Linked DNA regions of Homo sapiens: region 2 is linked to region 1. The links come from fine-mapping of genetic effects on gene expression. A gene starts in region 1. The other region holds a variant in brackets. All regions are shown on one strand. Distances are between the middles of the regions.

The links. PIP is the estimated chance that this variant, and not a neighbour inherited with it, causes the effect.
Region 2: its variant is fine-mapped to the expression of TAPBPL in blood mononuclear cells (TOPMed, PIP above 0.99).

Annotation. Positions count from the first base shown.
Region 1 is chr12:6,448,649-6,458,665 of GRCh38, reverse strand. It overlaps TAPBPL (TAP binding protein like), which reads right to left and starts at 6,624. Exons shown (of 7, transcript NM_018009.5): 1 at 6,354-6,624; 2 at 5,369-5,599; 3 at 4,950-5,219; 4 at 922-1,260; 5 at 1-21. The coding sequence starts at 6,417. CD27 (CD27 molecule) reads right to left here. Exons shown (of 6, transcript NM_001242.5): 3 at 8,314-8,493; 4 at 8,036-8,125; 5 at 7,652-7,771; 6 at 6,953-7,398. The coding sequence ends at 7,274. It overlaps CD27-AS1 (CD27 antisense RNA 1), which reads left to right and starts at 7,149. Exons shown (of 6, transcript NR_015382.2): 1 at 7,149-8,325; 2 at 9,929-10,017. RefSeq lists enhancers at 6,325-6,924, 7,355-7,514, 7,605-7,814.
Region 2 is chr12:6,530,818-6,542,002 of GRCh38, reverse strand. It overlaps GAPDH (glyceraldehyde-3-phosphate dehydrogenase), which reads right to left and starts at 7,486. Exons shown (of 9, transcript NM_002046.7): 1 at 7,434-7,486; 2 at 7,142-7,193; 3 at 5,410-5,509; 4 at 5,213-5,319; 5 at 4,993-5,083; 6 at 4,787-4,902; 7 at 4,613-4,694; 8 at 4,007-4,419; 9 at 3,632-3,902. The coding sequence starts at 7,170. The coding sequence ends at 3,833. It overlaps IFFO1 (intermediate filament family orphan 1), which reads left to right. Exons shown (of 10, transcript NM_001193457.2): 9 at 361-491; 10 at 1,415-2,464. The coding sequence ends at 1,520. It overlaps GAPDH-DT (GAPDH divergent transcript), which reads left to right and starts at 7,596. Exons shown (of 2, transcript XR_002957397.2): 1 at 7,596-8,539; 2 at 8,860-10,087. It overlaps NCAPD2 (non-SMC condensin I complex subunit D2), which reads right to left. Exons shown (of 32, transcript NM_014865.4): 31 at 10,927-11,082; 32 at 10,048-10,676. The coding sequence ends at 10,591. RefSeq lists enhancers at 1,124-1,263, 1,294-1,443, 2,224-2,433, 4,611-5,384, 6,933-7,706 and 3 more and silencers at 7,195-7,334, 8,055-8,304. The variant A/G (reference allele first, on the strand shown) is at 5,604.

The DNA of each region.
Region 1 (10,017 bases):
TCAGTCGTACTTTAGGGGAAGCTGGAGAAAGAATGAGGAATAAGATTACACATGGATCTAACTGGGGACAGCGGAGGAGCCTGAAGCCTTTTCTTCCTGCCAAGATGAGAGTAGATTGTGGAGGCTACAGTGTCCCTTGGTGGTGTACCAAGGCGGGGGTGTGTGAGGGGCCCACCTGGATGCAGGCCGTAAGGGGGCAGGGTTACATTTTCCAGAAAACAGATAGTAAAGCCAACTAAAGATTGGCTGGCTTCTTACTGTCATTCTAAGCCAGTTTTTTTTTTTTTTTTAAGATGGTGTCTTGCTCTGTCGCCCAAGCTGGAGTGCAGTGGCATGATCTTGGCTCACCGCAACCTCCACCTCCGGGGTTCAAGCGATTCTTCTGCCTCAGCCTCCTGAGTAGCTGGGACTACAGGCGCGCACCACCATGCCTAGCTATTTTTTGTATTTTTAGTAGAGACGGAGTTTCACCGTATTGGCCAGGCTGGTCTTGAACTCCTGACCTCGTGATCCGCCTCCCAAAGTGCTGGGATTATAGGTGTGAGCCACCGCGCCCGGCCTCTAAGCCAGAGATTTTAAAGGATAGCAGTGATAATGGTCAGAACCGCTTCCACTGCTCTGCCTTGGTTTGCTGCTGCTGCTCCTCAGGATGTGGTCCAAAAGGACTGGGGTGATGGAGACAGCCAGCCACAGCAGGGCAGCAGGATCCTGGGCTGGAAATCTCTTGGTGGAATTATCCTGGAGTCCAACGGGACTCCTTATCTGATGCCATCTGTGCTTCCATGGTGAAGATGGCATTTAAGTTGTGGGATTGAAGCCTGCTTCTCAGGAAATCATTCTTGCATTTGGGTCCCAATCTGGAAACGCTCCCAGTAGACATGTTATATCCCCTTCCCTGGGATAACCATGTCCTGGCCTCACCTTGGATGTTGAGCTGGATGATCTGCTGAGCTCGGTACAGAGAGGTGGTGATCTGGCAAATGTAGGTCCCCTCGTCCTGTATAGTGAGGCCGGGCAGGGTGAGGGAGGCATCCCTGGCCATGCCCAGTTGTGCAGGCTCCAGGGTAGCGCCCTTCCGCACAGCCTGCCCCTGCCCTGCGGTCCAGCTGTACACCAACTGACCCCTGCCCTTGTGCTGCAGTCGCCACTCCACACTGATGAGGTCCAAGCCCGGTGCCATGGAGAAGCCACAGTCCAAGGAGGCTGAGGACCCCAGCAGGAAGCTCAGGGATTGGGTCTGTGTCATCACCTGGAACTCCACTGTGAAGAGGAAAAGAGGGGTGATTTGTGGGCTACTTCCTCCTTGAGGTCACCTGATCTCCAAGCTGTGGGCATGTTGTGGGCATACACCTGCCTCTTCCTCGCCTGACAGGCCGGTTGAGCTTATTTTCCATCACATGGAACCACAAAGAAATGGGGCTCTGGAAAGGTAGCATGGTACACATGATGGCCATCACCATTTTGGGATCACTTACTCTAGGATAATTTAGTGAAAGCTATGGATCTCCCACCAGGAAAAATACACATGCAAAATTAAGAGTTACCATCAATCTTCAGGTAAGAACTACTAGAGTAGCAGAAAAAGCTCTGAAACCCTGGTTGTTCCACTTACTGGCTCCGTGACCTTTGACAAGTCACTTGGTGTTACCAAGCTCACCTGCTTAAGCAAGGATGCTGTGAAGACTAGAAACAATAGTTTAAAAAGTACGTGGTGGCTGGGTGCGGTGGCTCATGCCGGTAATCCCAGCACTTTGGGGGGCCGAGGTGGGTGGATCACCTGAGGTCAGGAGTTTGAGACCAGCCTGGCCAACATGGTAAAACCCTGTCTCTACTAAAAACACAAAAATTAGCCGGGCATGGTGGCAGGTGCCTGTAATTCCAGCTACTTGGGAGGCTGAGACAGGAGAATTGCTTGAATCCGGGAGGTGGAGGTTGCAGTGAGCCAAGATCGCGCCATTGCACTCCAGTCTGGGCGACGAGTGAAACTCCGTCTCAAAAAAAATGTAAAAAACAAAACAAAACAAAAAAACACACGTGGTATTGGGAAGCCCAGGCGGGTGGATCACCTGAGGTTGGGAGTTTGAGACCAGCCTGACCAACATGGAGAAACCCCGTCTCTACTAAAAATACAAAAATTAGCTGGGTGTCGTGGCGCATGCCTGTAATCCCAGCTACTTGGGAGGCTCAGGTGGAGAATCACTTGAACCCAGGAGGCGGAGGTTGTGGTGAGCCAAGATCGAGCCATTGCACTCCAGCCTGGGCAATAAGAGTAAAACTCCATATCGAAAAAAAAAAAAAAAAGCATGTGATAGTAGTATCTGTGCCAAACATGCTTAACCTAAATCCAGTCATGAGGAAATGAGGAAAACAATCAGACAAATCTAAATGTTGGGATACTCTACAAGACCACTAGCCTGGACCCTTCAAAAATGTCAATTCTATGAAACATGTTCTAGATTAAAACAAGGAACAGCACAACTAAATGCACTGCATGATTCTTGTTTGAATTGTGTACTTAGAAAAAGCAGTAAAAAAAAAAATATTGGGACAAGTGGAGAAATTTGAATTTGGAGACATTTAATTATTTTTTAAAGAGAAGGGTCTTAGGTTGGGCACAGTGGCTCACGCCTGTAATCCCAACACTTTGGGAGGCCGAGATGGGTGGATCACCTGAGGTCAGGAGTTCAAGACCAGCCTGGCCAATATGGTGAAACCCCATCTCTACTAAAAATACAAAAATTAGCTGGTGTGGTGGCGGGCGTCTATAATCCCAGCTACTTGGGAGACTGAGGCACAAGAATCACTTGAACCTGGGAGGCAGAGGTTGCAGTGAGCCAAGATCATGCCACTGCACTCCAGCCTGGGAGACAGAATGAGACTGTTAAAAAAAAAAAAAAAAAAAGAGGGTCTCGCTCTCTATGTTGCCCAGACAGGACTCAAACTCCTGGGCTCAAGCAATCCTCCTGCCTCAGTCTCCTGAGTAGCTGGACTACAGGTGTGCACCACCATGCCCTGGACTTTATAGTTGAGACTATTATCATATCAATTAAAAAATATCTAAAAGTATGAAGATCTGTGGCATACTAGGCAGTCGTGTGGGGAGATAGGGACAGTCTGCCCTAGCAGAGAGGAGTATTTTATCACTGATAATATTCAGAATTGCCAGTGTCGGGAGATGGTGAGACTATAAAGCCATCTGACTTTTAGCTGATTTTATTTTTGTTCTGAAATATTTTACAGTCTGCACTCCCTTATTGCCTGCGCTACGGGTAGACTACTTCCCCACTTTGGTTTGTTTCTGACATGATGGCTTTGTAACTATGAAGGATTACATCCTTGTCCTTCATTGTAAACTAATACATGCTATGGATGTATTTGGGGTTTAAACATGCGTTTCGGGGTTCAAACATGCGTTTGGGGTTCAAGTGTTATCTTCTGCAACTTACTCTCAGTTCAGAGGAAAATACACACGTACACATATACACACATGAGGAGTCGGGGGAGAGAGAATGTGGCAAATTGTTAACAACTGGTGGATCTAGGTGTAGGGTATATAGGTGTTCATTATATTATTATTTCACCTTTTTTTGTAGGTTTGGAATAAAAAGAGAGAAATACCTACGCATGCCAGGAGTATGGTAGACACTGGACAGACATGAAGACCTTTTTCTAATGGGTCAGGATAGATTTAGGTTGGACCACAGAGAGGTTAGAGTGTTCTGGGGTTTTCCAAGGATAGGACGGTTGCCCCTAATTTTCTCTGGACTTGGCTGTTTCTTCTTGGAGACTCAAAGAAGCAGGGCACAGAGTATTGGATTAATGGGCTCTGGGGAACCCTGTCATCATGTTCTCAATTTCTTGTGCCCTCGAGGATGTGCTGAGCTGGAGAGGGCAAGTACTGGGTTTACTAATAAGATCATGAACAAATGATGCATCCCTGAGCTTTACCCCTGAAGCACCAGAGCAGCCTAGCATTTCACTGGGAGAAAACCGGGTTTTGGCTCGATAAGACTACAGTGGACAGCACCCATGTACAGAATAGCATCATGTGTCTTATTTCCTCATGGCAGCCCAGTGAGATGAGAACGATCTCCATTTTGGAAATAACACAGGTTGTCTGTGTGCCTGGGGACGTTCAGGTAGGGGCTGCGAAGCATTCTCTTGTGGACTCAGGGTTTTTGTTGTTGTTGTTGTTTTTGAGACGGTGTCTCACTCAGCTGCCCAGGCTGGAGTGCAGTGGCGCAATCTCGGCTCACTGCAACCACCGTCTCTCAGGTTCAAGTGATTCTCCCGTCTCAGTCTCCTGAGTAGCTGGGATTACAGGCACCTGCCATCATGCCCGGCTAATTTCTGTATTTTAGTAGAGAGGGGGTTTCACCATGTTGGCCAGGCTGGTCTTGAACTCCTGACCTCAGGTGATCCACCTGCCTTGGCCTCCCAAAGTGCTGGGATTACAGGCATGGGCCTTCGCACCTGGCCTGACTCAGGGGTTTTTAGGAAGAAAGGACCAAGGCCTAGGGGTGCCCTGAGGTGACCAGTGTGGATGGAGGTGGATTTGTTCCCTTTCTTCTTCTGTGCCCCATATCTTACCACTTTAGAAAAGCAAAACTTTCTGTGACTTGCTTTTCTTTTCTTTTCTTTTTTTTTTTTGAGATGGAGTTTCGCTCTTGTTGCCCAGGCTGAAGTGCCATGGTGTGATCTCGGCTCACCGCAACCTCTGCCTTCCGGGTTCAAGCGATTCTCCTGCCTCAGCCTCCCTCGTAGCTGGGATTACAGGCACCCGCCACCATGCCCGGCTAATTTTGGTATTAGTAGAGACGGGGTTTCACCGTGTTGACCAGGCTGATCTCAAACTCCTGACCTCAGGTGATCCACCGACCTCGGTATCCCAAAATTCTGGAATTACAGGCGTGAGCCACCACACCTGGCCTTGCTTTTCATTTTCTTACCTGCAGTTCGCACAGTCCCCTGGGGGCTCAGTGGCAAGTTCAGCGTCGGGTGCCAGAGCGCCTCATTCTTGGTGACCCTGGGAGTCTTCATCACCAAGGAGATGCTAGGTCCCCCTCCAGAGACCTGCATGTTGGCCATGAACCAAGCTGCTGTCTTAACAGTGGTCTCTGTCATCTGGAGAAAGTAGCGGGAGATCTCACAGGTCACCTCCTTCCCACTGCAGTCAGCATGGAGCAAGGCCTCGGCCTGGGGAATCTGGACCAGGTCCACTGGGGAGAAGCAGGGCACACACAGAGGGCAAATTAGCGTGAGAACACCAGGGCCAACGGGAGGCAGTATGTGTGGCTGTAATCGGGACCTGGGCTGTCCTGGTGGAGGGAGCCCGGGAGGACCAAGGACACAGGTGGAAGGCTTTTACCTGAGGCCTCAAAGATAATAGGTGGGTCATCTTGGGCCAGTGTGCCCCCTTGGAAATCGGTGAAGTCCTCCAGGGAGCCATCGTCCAGCACTGGCACCTGCTTCAGCACAAGGGAGGCCCTTGCCCTGTCCTCACTGCTGGCGAGAGCTCCACGGTGCGCACCGTCCTTCGCCAGGAAGCAGTCTAGGACCACGTCCACTGCCCGCCACTGCCCCTCTGCTGGGTGGGGCTCTGCAGACAAAGGCTGGGGTGAGCACCGCCTTCCCCAGAAAGCTACTCCACACTTGCTTCCTGCCCCCGCCCTCAAGCTGTGGAGTCATCAAAGGGTAAAAGTTGCCATCCAAGATCCTAGCTGTTTCTGTGTCCCTCTATTCTCCCGTCATCCCCAAACCAGCTTTCTGGAGAGCACCTGCTAGTCCAGGCAAATACTTCTTGGTGAGAGTTAAAGTCCTGGATTTGCCTTGCTCAGAGGAGTTTATGCTTGCATTTCCAACTGTTGAATAAAAGACTATCTTTTCAGTCAAAGGAATTCTCAGAAAACAAGCAAGTGCCACCGCAGAGAGAGGAGACTGGACAGTTACTGTTGCTGGGGCACTGACAGCCTGCACTGCTTTCTCCCATTTCGGGTAGCCTTCCCCTCCCCCGCCTTCAAGGTCACCTTCCAAGTGATTTCCTCACCTGGGGAGTCCTTTCCTCTTCTGAAGTGTCAGCTCCCAGGCCAGTGCCCTCTCTGTAGGACAGTGGCTCCTGACCACAGCCACAGAGGCAGCCCCTCTTTAGCATTTTCCCTGTGGAGTCCCCACCCTCCCTCCACACACACTATTGGTTCCTTCCTTTGCCAGCCGCTGAGCCTTTCCCCTGTTGGGCTTAGAAGGCGATGGGGTCATCCCCGGCCCCTTTGCTCTTCTGGAATCTCGGGGAGGGTGGCACCCTGGGGCTTCAGTAGCTCTTCTCCCAGCCAGCTCTCCCCGACTCCCAGACTCACTGGTTTCTGCTGCTCCAGATAGAGCCAGGCAGAGCAGCAGGCACCAGCCCTCCTGTGTGCCCATGGAGGCTGCTCTCGAGTTCCCTCCTTGCCCACCGCCCTTCTCCACAGTCCTACGCTGCTTGCGAGGCCCGGCGGAAGAAGGGGGCTCTCCAAGCACACCTGGCAGCCTGCAGCCTTTAGGTTTCTTCCCTGTTCCCTCTGCTGCCGACTTTTCTTTCACTTTCACTTAGAGCAAGATGGCAGCCCGCGTCCCTGTGTGAAGCCGTCTGCAGCAGCTGCCAGAGCCCTGCTTGCTGTTTCCTTTCTCACCACCCACCTCACCCGGAAATCCCCTGGTGATTTCAAGACCTGACCTCTGCACCCTTTTGCTCCCCACCTGTCCCAAAAAAGTGGAGCTATAACTGTGGGAAAAGGGGATCTGAAGTCAGACACAGGATCCACAGTAGCCTGGGGACCTTTCTCACCCCCGCCCTTAAGCAGGCCCCAACATAACCGGCTGAGAAACCTCCTCTGCCAGATCCTGACCTGAGCCAGGAGGCGGCCAGGAAACTGGATTTTGGGACTGGGATTTCAGAGAGGAAGCTGGAGAGCTGCAGGGTGGTCATCTGTCACTTTATTTTGCCCGTCTTGTAGCATGTGGGTCTTTCGCAGCAGGAAGTGTGTTTTACAACCAGAGCCCCCGCCCTCCTGCAGCGCAGGCGCAGCTGGCTGGGCTCCTGCTTCCCACTCTCCACCTCATCCATATTTGTCCTCGTCCCTGCCAGTCTCGAAAAGGCACTCTGTCACGTGTACACAGGAAAGGGCCCTGACAAGAGGATGGGACTGCAGTTGTGGCTGCCAGGTCTCACTCTCCCTTGGATGGTCGGCGGGGTGGGGGTGGAGGCCAGGGCTGTAGTGCAGCTCCCGCAGGTGCTGGCTCAGGGGGAGCAGGCAGGCTCCGGTTTTCGGTAATCCTCCTGGATGGGGATGGTGCTGCCCTCCTCCTCCCTGGGGCAGCTGTAATGACAAGGCTCTGCAGGCTCCACAGGACTTTCTCCTTTGTCTGCAGAAGGAGATCCGATGAGTCTTGGCCAGCAGTGGGGGCAGGGGGAGACGGGAGAAGGAGATGGGTAGAGGCGGGTGCGCTTGGGGGAGGGGTGTCAGGAGCACGCCAGCTAAGGGGAGAGAAGGGGTAGGACCAAGGCTGGTGAAGTGGAGCTGGTGGGTTTCAGTGAGATTCCAGGCGTGGGCAGTGGGGTTGAGCCAGTGGGGTGTGGTGCAGGGGCAGGACCGGAGGCCTGTGTTCTGTCTCTTACTTGATCTATATTTCCTTCGTTGATGGAGGAACAGGGCCCCGGCCAGGGTGAAAACAAGGAACATTCCAGAGAAGATCACAAGGATGCGAATAAAATCGGAGCTGCACAGGGATCTTTGGGCTGTAATAGGAGGGGACACACAGGGGTTAGGGGAGGGTCTAGCCCTTGGCTCCCTCAGCCCAGCCCTCCTGTCACCTTGCCTCTCCCCTTTCCCCCACCTTATTCTATCCCACCCGCCACCGTTGGCCAACTCCTCTCCTAAACAGTGGACTCTGCTTTTTCCCCTCCTCTTATCCCTAATCCTAGGAGCTTTCTGTCTGGCTTCCCTCCTGGCCCCTCGTGTATGCATTCTCTCTAGCGGTGGGGATTAAGGAGAAAACTCACGTGGCCAGTGGGTAGAGAGAGTCCGGGCAGGCAGCTGCCTGAAGTCAGCCAGAGTCTGCATGTGCCCAGCTGTCCTGGCCTCCAGCATCTCTGGAAAAACAGAGACAGAATGAGTAGCAGCAGGGGACCCCATAGGGCACATCTGAAGGCCTGAGAGGTGCTGGATGGGATGGGAAGGCAGAAACAGGCTGACCTTATCTAGGGGTAGGAGTGGGGAGTACTGGTTGGGGTATCACCGCTACCCCACGTGATGGCACAGAGAGTTGCCTGGAACTTACCACTGACATAAGGTAAGTGGGTGGGCTGAGGGTGTGGGCTCAGGGCCTGAGACGACCGAGCGGTCAGCGAAGGGTTTGGAAGAGGATCACACTCGGTGCACTCCTTGTCCCTGCACTGCCAGCCATTGCGACAGGCACACTCAGCATTGGCAGTGATGGTGCAGTTGCGAACGAGAAGACCTGGGGGAAGAGAGGCCCAGGGAGCATAGGACACTCAGACCTGTGGAGACCTTCAAGGTCCACTTGCTTCATCCCCCAACCCCCATCCCAGGCCCACCTCTAGGGACGTGCTTCCCTTTCCATTCCCACCCCTGCAAAGGCCTGCCCTTTGCTCACGGTCCCCCAATGCCTTTGCCATTATTATTGTTATTAAAGAAGAAAGTTGGACCTTTCAGAAGGAAGATTCATGGGTTCAGACATAGAAACCATGAAAAGTAGAAAGAGCTTATATGACTTTCTCTTGTACTCCCTGATACATTTTTTATTTTTTATTTATTTTTTTGAGATGGAGTCTCGCTCTTGTTGCCGAGGCTGGAGTGCAATGGCGTGACCTTGGCTCGTTGCAACCTCTGCCTCCCGGGTTCAAGCAATTCTCCTGCCTCAGCCTCCCAAGTAGCTGGGATTACAGGTGTGTGCCACCACACCCGGCTAATTTTTTGTATTTTTAGTAGAGACGGGGTTTTACTGTATTGGCCAGGCTGGTATTAAACTCCTGACCTCAGGTGATGCACCAGCCTCAGCCTCCCAAAGTGTTGGGATTACAGGCGTGAGCCACTGTGCTCGGCCCCAATACTTTAATAACTTTTAATTAAAGTATAATATACGTACAGAGAGGCACGCATGATTGTAAAGCTTAAGAATTTGTACAAATTTGGCTCACAGGCATAACCAGCAGCAGATCAACAAATATAAAATAGCCGGGTGAGGCAGGGAATTGCTTGAACCCGGGAGGTGGAAGTTGCAGTGAGCCGAGATCACGCCACTGCACTCCAGCCTGGGCAACAGAGTGAAACTCCGTCTCAAAAAAAAAAAAAAAAGAAAAGAAAGAAAGAAAATAGCCAGGTGCAGTGGCTTACGCCTGTAATCCCAGCACTTTGGGAGGTTGAGGTGGGTGGATTGCTTGAGCTCAGGAGTTTGAGACCAGCCTGGCCAACATGGTGAAACCCCGTCTCTACAAAAAATACAAAAATTAGCTGGGTGTGGTGGTGCACACCTGTAGGCCCAAGCTACTGGGGAGGCTGAGGTGGGAGGATCGCTTGAGCCCGGGAGGTGGAGGTTACAGTGAGCTGAGATCATGATACTGCGCTCCAGCCTGGGTGACAGAGTGAGATCCTGTCTCAAACACCACCAACAAAAAACAAAACAAAGTATATTAGGGATTCCCAGGGGCTGGGGCTGGGGCTGGGGTTGGTTGGGGGGAAGAAATGGGGAGTCATTGCTAAGGGGTACAAGTTTCTCTGGGGTAACGAAAATGTTATAGAATTAGATAGTGTTGATGGCTGCACAACCTGTGGATACACTAAAATAAATAAATAATAAATAGTTACTTGATTACAGTTACTTAGCCTTTATTTTGTTTGTTTGTTTTTTGACAGAGTCTTGCTTTGTCGCCCAGGTTGGAGTGCAGTGGCACGATCTCGGCTCAGTGCAACCTCCGCCTCCTGAGTTCAAGTGATTCTCCTGCCTCAGCCTCCCTAGTAGCTG
Region 2 (11,185 bases), 83 kb before region 1:
GGATGAGGGGTGAGCCGGGCCCCATAGGAACCTGTGTGGCCCTGGGAGCCTGTGGATCTGCTCCATCCCGCCCACACTGACTTTCCTCACCACTCTTATCAGTCTTAAAAGAACACAGCCTGCAGCAGTACCTTTGCATTCCTCCATAGGCAAAGATTTCCAGGAAAAGCAGAGGAAACAATGGTGTATTCGCTGCCTTCTGCCTTGGTCTGGTTTATTTTAAAATCTGAGCCTTCAGTAATGGCTGCCTGGGCCCCCGGCCCAGCCACTGCTCTTGGCGTGTTGGCCTCCTGGCGGGGGCAACAGAGGCGCTGTGAACGCCACCTGTTAACCCCGATGGCCCTGCCTGCCCCACCACAGCTGGAGTTGGCCACGGCCAAGAACGACATGAACCGGCACCTGCACGAGTACATGGAGATGTGCAGCATGAAGCGCGGCCTGGACGTGCAGATGGAGACCTGCCGCCGGCTCATCACCCAGTCTGGAGACCGGTAGGCGCCTCCCCTGGGCATGGGGCCTTCCAGGGGGACACAGCGGGGAGAAAGGTTGGAACACAGCCCCAGAGACCCTCAGGCAATGACTGGGTCACATCTTGCTGTGGGGCTGCCCTTTGGGAGTTACCTGGTGGGGCTGGCCCAGACCCACAGCTCTCTCCCTTGGCAGTTGGATGAGCTATGTCCATTCATGACGGGAGGGCTGAAACCTCCCAAGGCCACCAGCTCTGGTGGTTCCCCTGGTTAGAGGCAGTTTAAAAACTGGCAAGGAACAGAAGGGTTGTGGGGGCAGATTTTTATCTAAAGTCAGGGCCATGATTTGTGCATTTGACCCTGTGTAAGTTACACCGCAACAAGAAAGTGAATTTTTAAAAATCACAAAAATACTGCAGATAGACATAAAGCCAAGGCCCTAGAGTCAGGGTGCTGGAGGCTCAGCAGCTTCTCTCCTACTGTGACTTCAGCTATTTCTTTTTTTTTTTTTTTTGGCTCACTACAACCTCCGCCTCCCAGGTTCAAGTGATTATCTTGCCTCAGCCTCCAAGGCGCCCGCCACCACACCTGGCTAATTTTTGCATTTTTAGTAGAGATGGGGTTTCACCATGTTGGCCAGGCTTGCCTTGAACTCCTGACGTCGTGATCCACCCGCCTCTGCCTCCCAAAGTGCTGGAATTACAGGCGTGAGCCATCATGCCTGACCTCAGCCTCTGAGTTCCCAAGACACAGGCGGGGCCCATTTCCCTGTCAGGGTGGGTTTGGAGAGAGTTCAGTCCCTGCCGCTCCCTCGCCATCCCGCGGCCCCGCCCTCGCTTCCGGTACTTCTCACGGGCTGCCAGAGGGTGAGGCAGCAGGAGGAGGAGTGCCGTCCGTCTTCAGGATTCCTGCCTGCCCCAAGGTTGACAACTGGTGTTTTTTTCTAGAAAGTCTCCTGCTTTCACTGCGGTCCCGCTTAGCGACCCGCCGCCGCCGCCAAGCGAGGCTGAGGACTCCGATCGCGATGTCTCATCTGACAGCTCCATGAGATAGAGACCTGCCTCCCCCTTGCACCCGAGGCCCTCGCAGCAGGGAGCTCAGCGAGGCAGAGGGTGGGGCTGCACAGAGGGGAACATCAGCTGCAGCTCTGCACCAGGCCGGTCCCTGGGGACTGGGGCGCTCCTCCCTCAGGCTTTCTCCCTCAGTCTTGGCTTCTCCAGGGCTCTGGGGTGTCTGGAGCTAGGCTTGGCCCTACCATTCTGGGGCCATTTCCACCACAGTTGGGGCTCTCCTGCCTTCACGCGTGGGTGTCTGCTACTTCCCCATCTTTAAAATGCTGCCAGAGCGATTGCGGCCCCTCACCTTGTCCACGTATCAGGAATGTGAATGTGGGACCTTTCCTCCATCCCTGTTGTCCGGAGCCAGCTCACTGTCTTCCACACTGGTGCTAACTGGCCCAGGCACTGGAGTGGAATAGAATGCAGCTGGAGGCTACGCATGGCCTCTGCAGCACACGCAGCTGGAGAGGGCTTCTGTCCCTGTCAGCGGCAGAGGGCGTTGGGGCTGGCCGGGGCACCTTGTCCCTGCTATGGTCCACGTGCTCACGCTGTCCACCTGCCAGGTGGAGTGTATGTGGCTGTGGCCCTCCCTCGTGGAGGTGCCGTGCTTTAAAGAGGCCTTAGTGCCCGGGATGGGCACAGTGTTTTGAAGGGAGGTGGGAGCTCTTGCTCTCCTGGTCACTGCAGAATGACAGAGAAGGTGAAGCTCCATGCATGTGTGCGCGGGTGTATGTGCGCTCAGGGTCTCTGTTTAAGTATCAGCTAAAGATGTGCTTCCTCCGTGTCTGTCATACACTGAGACCAACAGGCTACAGTGTCCCTGATTCTTGGAAAAGCCTGGAGAAGCTGGGGAGATGCGGTTCACAATGCCTCGGTATAGGAGGCTGTGTTGAGCTGACATTCAAATGGATTCTTTAATAATAATGAAACTGGCGAGTATTTATTGTGCACTTTGGTGTCACTGTCTCAAGCACTTCCTAATATTCACTAGTTTGAACTCTGAGGTAGGTACTTTTTTTTTTTTTGAGATGGAGTCTCATACTCTGTTGCCTAGGCTGGAGTGCAGTGGTGTGGTCTCAGCTCACTGCAGCCTCTGCCTCCGGGGTGCAAGCGATTCTCCTGCTTCAGCATGCCTGTAGCTGGGACTATAGGCATGTGCCATGAAGCCTGGCTGATTTTTGTAATTTTAGTAGAGACGGAGTTTCACCATGTTGGCCAGGCTGGTCTCAAACTCCTGACCTCAGGTGATACACCCACCTTGGCCTCCCAAAGTGCTGGGGTTACAGGCGTGCGCGCTCTACCGAGGTATGTACTTTTGTCTCCACTAGGTAAGCACACGTGCAAAGTGAGGCCCGGGAGTAACTGCCCAAAGCAACTGAGCCGTTCAGTGGCAGAGCCAGGGGTCTGGACCTAGGTCCCAGCTACACGCCTTGCCCCTACCCAAGTTCCCCTAAGGACGATGATGGAAATAAGTCACCCTGACACATCTCAGTTCATCTTCCTCAAAACTATGCGAGGTGGGCATTTTTACCGATTTTTAAACATTATATAGTCCTTACCGCCTTGGGCATGGTTTTAGGTACTTGGTTTACCTAGATGAATCCTGCTTGAAGACCTTAGGGGCTGGCCACGATGTCCTCAGATAAGACACGAGGGCACAGAAAGCAATAGAGCACGTGCTCAAGACCTCACAGCTGCGGAGGCCAAGCTGGAATTGCCCGCTGCAGCTCAGCTCCAGGCTGAGCTCCACTAACCAGTCAGCGTCAGAGCCCAGTGCGAGCCCTGACTTCCTCCACCTGTCAGCCTCCCTGGGGCTGCCCACAGAATAGCTTCTTCCATGTTTGGCCAACAGCAGATAGCCTAGGACTGGAGCGAGGAGAGGAAAAGGCCTTGTTCTCTGAAGTAGTGGTGCCAGCTTCCTGTAGCACTCAAGACGTCTGAGCGGGAAGCAAATGGTTCTCGAAGCAAGCAAGGCTGTTTGGAGGCCCTACCCTCAGTCTGAGGAGAACATACCAGGTCCCTCCCCAGCAAGAATGTCTCACCTTGACACAAGCCCAGCTTCCCTCCCCTCTGCCCCAGACCCTAGAATAAGACAGGACAAGTAACTGGTTGAGCACAGGGTACTTTATTGATGGTACATGACAAGGTGCGGCTCCCTAGGCCCCTCCCCTCTTCAAGGGGTCTACATGGCAACTGTGAGGAGGGGAGATTCAGTGTGGTGGGGGACTGAGTGTGGCAGGGACTCCCCAGCAGTGAGGGTCTCTCTCTTCCTCTTGTGCTCTTGCTGGGGCTGGTGGTCCAGGGGTCTTACTCCTTGGAGGCCATGTGGGCCATGAGGTCCACCACCCTGTTGCTGTAGCCAAATTCGTTGTCATACCTAGAAGATGAAAAGAGTTGTCAGGGCCCTTTTTCTGAGCCAGCCACCAGAGGGCGCCAGACCCTGCACTTTTTAAGAGCCAGTCTCTGGCCCCAGCCACATACCAGGAAATGAGCTTGACAAAGTGGTCGTTGAGGGCAATGCCAGCCCCAGCGTCAAAGGTGGAGGAGTGGGTGTCGCTGTTGAAGTCAGAGGAGACCACCTGGTGCTCAGTGTAGCCCAGGATGCCCTTGAGGGGGCCCTCCGACGCCTGCTTCACCACCTTCTTGATGTCATCATATTTGGCAGGTTTTTCTAGACGGCAGGTCAGGTCCACCACTGACACGTTGGCAGTGGGGACACGGAAGGCCATGCCAGTGAGCTTCCCGTTCAGCTCAGGGATGACCTTGCCCACAGCCTTGGCAGCGCCAGTAGAGGCAGGGATGATGTTCTGGAGAGCCCCGCGGCCATCACGCCACAGTTTCCCGGAGGGGCCATCCACAGTCTTCTGGGTGGCAGTGATGGCATGGACTGTGGTCTGCAAAAGGAGTGAGGCCCTGCAGCGTACTCCCCACATCACCCCTCTACCTCCCTCCCCACCTTGAAAGGAAATTATGGGAAAGCCAGTCCCCAGAACCCCCAACCCCAGGGTTGCACGCAGCCCCGGCAGGGAGGAGCCAGTCTTGGATGAGAAAGGTGGGAGCCTCAGTCCCATTCCCCAGCTCTCATACCATGAGTCCTTCCACGATACCAAAGTTGTCATGGATGACCTTGGCCAGGGGTGCTAAGCAGTTGGTGGTGCAGGAGGCATTGCTGCAAAGAAAGAGGGAGCGGGGCGCAAGTCAGGGGAGCGTGTCCATAGGGTGCCAGGCTGGCCGCTTCTCCACGGGCCCTGCCTTCCTCACCTGATGATCTTGAGGCTGTTGTCATACTTCTCATGGTTCACACCCATGACGAACATGGGGGCATCAGCAGAGGGGGCAGAGATGATGACCCTTTTGGCTCCCCCCTGCAAATGAGCCTACAGCAGAGAAGCAGACAGTTATGAACCCGGGTCCTGCCTTTGCAGGGCTGAGTCAGCTTCCCCTCCCGCGGGCCCTCCTGCACTCACCCCAGCCTTCTCCATGGTGGTGAAGACGCCAGTGGACTCCACGACGTACTCAGCGCCAGCATCGCCCCACTTGATTTTGGAGGGATCTCGCCTATGGGGGTGGGGGGGAGATGGGGACAGGACCATATTGAGGGACACAAGGTTACCATATACCCAAGGGAGCCACACCATCCTAGTTGCCTCCCCAAAGCACATTTCTTCCATTCTGTCTTCCACTCACTCCTGGAAGATGGTGATGGGATTTCCATTGATGACAAGCTTCCCGTTCTCAGCCTTGACGGTGCCATGGAATTTGCCATGGGTGGAATCATATTGGAACATGTAAACCTGGGGGAATACGTGAGGGTATGAAGGGGCTGCCCATCAGCCAGGTGGCTCCTCCCACACCAGCTTTGGGGCTCACCATGTAGCACTCACCATGTAGTTGAGGTCAATGAAGGGGTCATTGATGGCAACAATATCCACTTTACCAGAGTTAAAAGCAGCCCTGGTGACCAGGCGCCCAATACGACCAAATCTAAGAGACAAGAGGCAAGAAGGCATGAGGAGGGGAGGCTCCTCCAGAATATGTGAGCAGCCCTAGGCCACCTCCCCATTAAGAGGGCGAATGC[A/G]GCATCTCCTTACCCCCAGGAGGGCCCAAGAGGTTGAATTTTATCTCCCTTGAGCTTCCCTGCCAGGCTGGCCTGGCTTAAGGCATGGCTGCAACTGAAGGCTCCAGGGCTGCCCAACACCCCCAGTCATACGAAGCCCTTCCAGGAGAAGCGGCCATGTGGGGCACTGCCACCCACAGTCTGGGCACAAGCTTTGTACATGGTATTCACCACCCCACTATGCCACCCCAGGAATGCTTGCTGCTGCCTAGCTCAGCTGCACCCTTTAGGGAGAAAACGCTTGTACACTCAGCATCATCAAACTCAAAGGGCAGGAGTAAAGGTCAGAAATTAACTGGACAGGGCAAGCCCACCCCTTCTCTAAGTCCCTCCTACAAAAGGGACAGAGACTGGGGCGGGTGGGAAGAGGGGAAGCTGTATTTTAACCCCCTAGTCCCAGGGCTTTGATTTGCCAAGTTGCCTGTCCTTCCTAGCTCTTTTCCAGAAATCAGGAGTGGGAGCACAGGTAAGTGCATGTGTGTGGGGAGAAGGGATGGGAGAGAGCCCCAGCCCAGGCCCCCAGCTACAGAAAGGTCAGCAGCTATATTTAACCTCAGACCAGGGTGCGGTGGGAGATCTGGTTTCCGGAAGACGGAATGGGGAGAAGGGCAGGTTCCCCGAGGCGCCCAGACACCCAATCCTCCCGGTGACATTTACAGCCTGGCCTTTGGGGTCGGGTCAACGCTAGGCTGGCAGGGGAAGGGCGGGGCCGTGAGGTGAGCCGGCGCTGCAGGAAGGGGCCACCACCAGAGGGGCCATTTTGCGGTGGAAATGTCCTTTTCCAACTACCCATGACTCAGCTTCTCCCGGCTTGGCACCATGCCACAGCCACCACACCTCTGCGGGGAGGGGACACAAGAGGACCTCCATAAACCCACTTCTTTGATTTACCAGAGAATAATCTAGGAAAAGCATCACCCGGAGGAGAAATCGGGCCAGCTAGCCTCGCTCCACCTGACTTCCCCGCCACACGCGACTCCACCCATCGAGGCAGGAGCGCAGGGTTAGTCACCGGCAGGCTTTCCTAACGGCTGCCCATTCATTTCCTTCCCGGTTGCAACATGGCGGCCGCTCTACCGCAGGCGCAGCATCCGGACAGGGATGCACCCGCTGCGCACTAGCATCCCGGGGCCTGCGGTGCCGGAGGCCGTGGGGGAGGGGCTCCTCTGCGACACGTGACCCCGCAGAGCGCGAAAGGAAAGAAAGCGTCCCCCACCTAGGGGTCCGGGTCGGGATCTCGGGCGGGAGTAGGGACCTCCTGTTTCTGGGGACTAGGGGAAGGAGGCTCCGGGCAGATGGCGCCGCAAGGGCGGAGCTGCACAGGGCGCCACAGCCTGGGTGCGGGGCTCCGCCAGGTCCGAGCGCTGACCTTGAGCTCTCCTTGCGGGGAACAGCTACCCTGCCCCCATACGACTGCAAAGACCCGGAGCCCGCAAGGCTCGTAGACGCGGTTCGGGGGCGGTCGCAGCCCAGGGCCCCCCAGCCACCCGCGAACTCACCCGTTGACTCCGACCTTCACCTTCCCCATGGTGTCTGAGCGATGTGGCTCGGCTGCGCGGAGGGAGAGAACAGTGAGCGCCTAGTGGCCCCGGCCGACACACACGCCTCCCCTCCCCTCCCCCACCAGGCCTCCATGCCCAGCCCGCGCCGCATCACGTCCTCCGCCCGCCCCTGCAATGCGGAGGCCGCCCGGGCCCACCCCGCAGCGGCGCGAACACATCCGGCCTGCGCCCGCCCCTGCCGCCTTCAGGCCGTCCCTAGCCTCCCGGGTTTCTCTCCGCCCGTCTTCACCTGGCGACGCAAAAGAAGATGCGGCTGACTGTCGAACAGGAGGAGCAGAGAGCGAAGCGGGAGGCTGCGGGCTCAATTTATAGAAACCGGGGGCGCGGCGGCAGGCGGTGACTCGGACCCCGCCTCCCGCCAGGCTCAGCCAGTCCCAGCCCAAGGTCTTGAGGCCTGAGCTACGTGCGCCCGTAAAACCGCTAGTAGCCGGGCCCTACTTTCTCCCCGCTTTTTTTTTTCCGCAGCCGCCTGGTTCAACTGGGCACGCACCGAGCGTGTGGGCCCCGACGTAGGGGGGAAGGGACTGAGATTGGCCCGATGGGAGGTGATCGGTGCTGGTTCCCAGGACTGGACTGTGGGCAGCAGGACACTAGGGAGTCAAGGACGGGGACCCTTACACGCTTGGATGAAACAGGAGGACTTTGGGAACGACTGAGATGGGGAATTGGAGCCGGAGCCCAGCACCGCTCGCGGCTGCACGCGGCCTGCCCCCTCCCCTTTCTTTCTTTCAAAGGCTGAGAGGCGGGAAAGTTGGGGAACTTCTCCTCGAGGCTCTGCGGTAGTGACACCGGACTGCTCAGGCAAAGGCCTAGGAGGGGCCCATGGGCCTCGGGCGGGGGCCCGTGGTTCCTTCCCAGCCCCCACTTCCCCCTCCCCATCTCCTGGCTCCTGGCATCTCTGGGACCGAGGCCTGGGCTGGGCACTGGGCACTGGGCACTGGGGGCCTGGAGAGGAAGGAGGCTCGGGAGGCGGCTTGAGGGGGAGGGGGAGGTTTCTGCACGGAAGGTCACGATGTCCTGCAGCCCTGTAGCCTGGACCTGATAATTAGGGCAGACAATCCCGGCCCTGTGTGCACCAGCGGCTCTCTCCGGGCTGGGGCCCCAGGCGGAGGACAGGATGGCTGGTGGGGGCCCAGAGGCCTCCCACAAAGGCACTCCTGGAAACCTGTGGGCTGTGCTGCCTAGGGAGAGAGACAGTGTGCCTTTCATTCCATCCAGCCTGGGGCGAAGAGCGGGACGTGAGGGCGGAAGTCCCTCCCCGCCCTGGGACGTGCAGGCGAGCCAGGAGCCAGGGACTCCCTTTCACTGGCTGCGCCGGGGGATATTGAGGGCAGGGTGAGTCAAGAAGAGGGAAAAAGTGGGAAAAGAGGTCTTGGGCACACGGTGGGAACAGGTCCCCTGCCCCCTCCCACAGGGGATCCATTCTTCTGGTAGGAGGGCAGAGGGCCAGGTTTGTGAGTGTGGGATGGGAGGGTGCTGAACACTTGTAAGGAAGGGGGTGGGGTGGGGTGGCCTTGGCCCATCAGCAGGTGCATGGGAGGGGGATCCCGGGCCTCTTTGCTGGCCCAGCATAACCTGACACCAGCCCCCTGCCCTTCTAGCTAAAAGCCGGTTGCTAAGTTTAGCCTGCCTGGTGATAATCTTTGCTTAAAAAGCACCCACAGGACTCCAGTCCCTGACCCTGCCTTTCTGGGATTGCCTTTCCTGCTGGGACCCAGAGCCAGGCTGTGTCCTCGTCTGGCTGCCACTGGCATGGTTGGTGCGGGCTTTTCACAATGACCACCCAGAGCAGAGTAGCAAGAGCAAGGCAAGAAGGTCCCTAATGGTGAAAGGGGTGGGGTGGGGGAGTGGAGGAAGCCCCACCTCTGACTCAGCTATTCCTGCAACCAGGACCGTTAACCCTTTCTCATTGAGAGCATTAAGAGCACCTCCATGCTCCTGCACCACCCAAGCGTGATCTTCCCCTCTGCCTCATGCTTGTCATTTTTCATTACTGTCTTCTCCCCGCAAAGAGGGAGCTCAGTGCCCAGGGAGCACTACTGACGTAGTGTGCTGTTGTCATGACAGCAGAGGCACCAGTGTGGTCACGACAGCCAGCTCACAGCCTCCGGTTCGAAGGTGACTCAGCAGAGAAGACTTGAGGAGCTGGAGAGGGGTGCGCAGGCTTCAGGGGGCAGCCCGCCTGCAGCATAGCTCACGCCCTCTGCAGACCCGGGAACAATGAGGAATGCTGGGAGACAGGTCTTGTCTCCTGCAGAGCTGGAGGGGATCATGATCTGAACTTCCACGAGCCTGGGCCGGTCTGCTGCCAACCTTTGGAGATGGGATTAGGGAACACGAGTGGGGGTGGGGTGAGGCACACGGCAGAAAGCAACCCTTGGTCTAGAGCAGGTTTTCTCAACTGTGACGCTATTGACATTGTGGGCCGTGTGATTCTTTGTTGAGGGGCCATCCTGTGCACTGCAGGATGTTGAGCCACATCCCTGGCCTCTTCCCACAAATGCTGGTAGCATTCTTCCCCTATAGGCTATGACAACAAAACAGGCCCCAGGTGTTGTCAGATGTCCTCTGGCAGACAAAATTGCCCCCGGTTCAGAAGCACTGATCTGGAGCCTAGGCACTGCATAATTCTCCCCAGAGAGGCTGTCTGGTCACTGTGCAGGGTCCAGAGGTTGAGAGGGGAAAGGTGGCAGTGACGGGGCAGGAAGCTCATCTGCCATCCCGGGACAGGCCCTAGGACTCTGGGCTCACTCATCTCTCTCTGCACTGATAACCCTCTCTCTGCTGCATGAAACTGGGCTAATGTGAAAGATGAAACAAAGACAAGCTTAGGAAAAAATGTCTAAAAGTATATAAAAACATTTATTCATTAGAAAACAAGGAGATTGGCAAACATATATTCCAAAGTTGAAGCAGCTCAACGCAGTTCAGTTAGGCTAATTTAAGAGAAAGCCTTGCATTTTAAAGAGCGTGTAGGCATTTTTTTTTTAATTTGAGATGGAGGTTCGCTATTGTTGCCCAAGCTGGAGTGCAATGGTGTGATTTCGGCTCACTACAACCTCCGCCTCTGGGTTCAGGCGATTCTCCTGCCTCAGCCTCTTGAGTAGCTGGGATTACAGGCGCACGCCAATACGCCCGGCTAATTTTTTATTTTTAGTAGAGATGGGGTTTCTCCATGTTGGTCAGGCTGGTCTCGAACTCCCTACCTCAGGTTATCCACCCGCCTTGGTATCGCAAAGTGCTGGGATTACAGGCGTGAGCCACAGTGCCCGGCCTTTTTTTTTTTTAAAAAAAAGAGACAGACAAATATTTTACAAGGGAAACAGAATTCGAATTCCAGGTCACCCTACAGGATACCCTGCACAGGGAGGACAGGAACAGACTTCCTAGGATCTGTGCCTGCGAGCCGATGCTCTGAGAATGGGAGTTGTTTTCTTGGGTGTCTCGTCTTCTGTCATCTCTGCTGAAAGATCTATGCAAAGAATTAAAGGAATAAGAAAAAGCTGAGTCACAAAGATGGTGAAAAAATAGATATCAGAGAACAAGTGAGACAATCCCACACCGCACAGAAGAAATAAAATCCAAGCTGTACAGGAGAGGCCCTTCTGCGGCAGTGGGGCAGAGCATCTACACTCAGGCCCCCGCAGCAGGTCCTATGGAAACCAGCCCTCTGCACCCTAGCTGTGTGCCTTCTCGGCCGGGAACAGGCGGGAGCATCATACCTTCCTCACTGGACTCATCACTTGAGAAGACAACTTTGGGTTTCTTTTTGGAAGCTCGCTGCTGGGTGTTTGGATGCCGACGGGTAGTACGGCGGGGCTCTGGTGTGACAAAGTCATTGTCTGAGGCTGTAGAAGCCAGAGGCTGGTACCTAGAACCTAGAAAAGGCAGGAAAACGTGATTTAAAAAAGAAGAAGAAACAAATCACTGCAGGAGGGGAGGGCCCAGTCTGGTCTCGCCCGCACAGGCTGCCTTACGTAC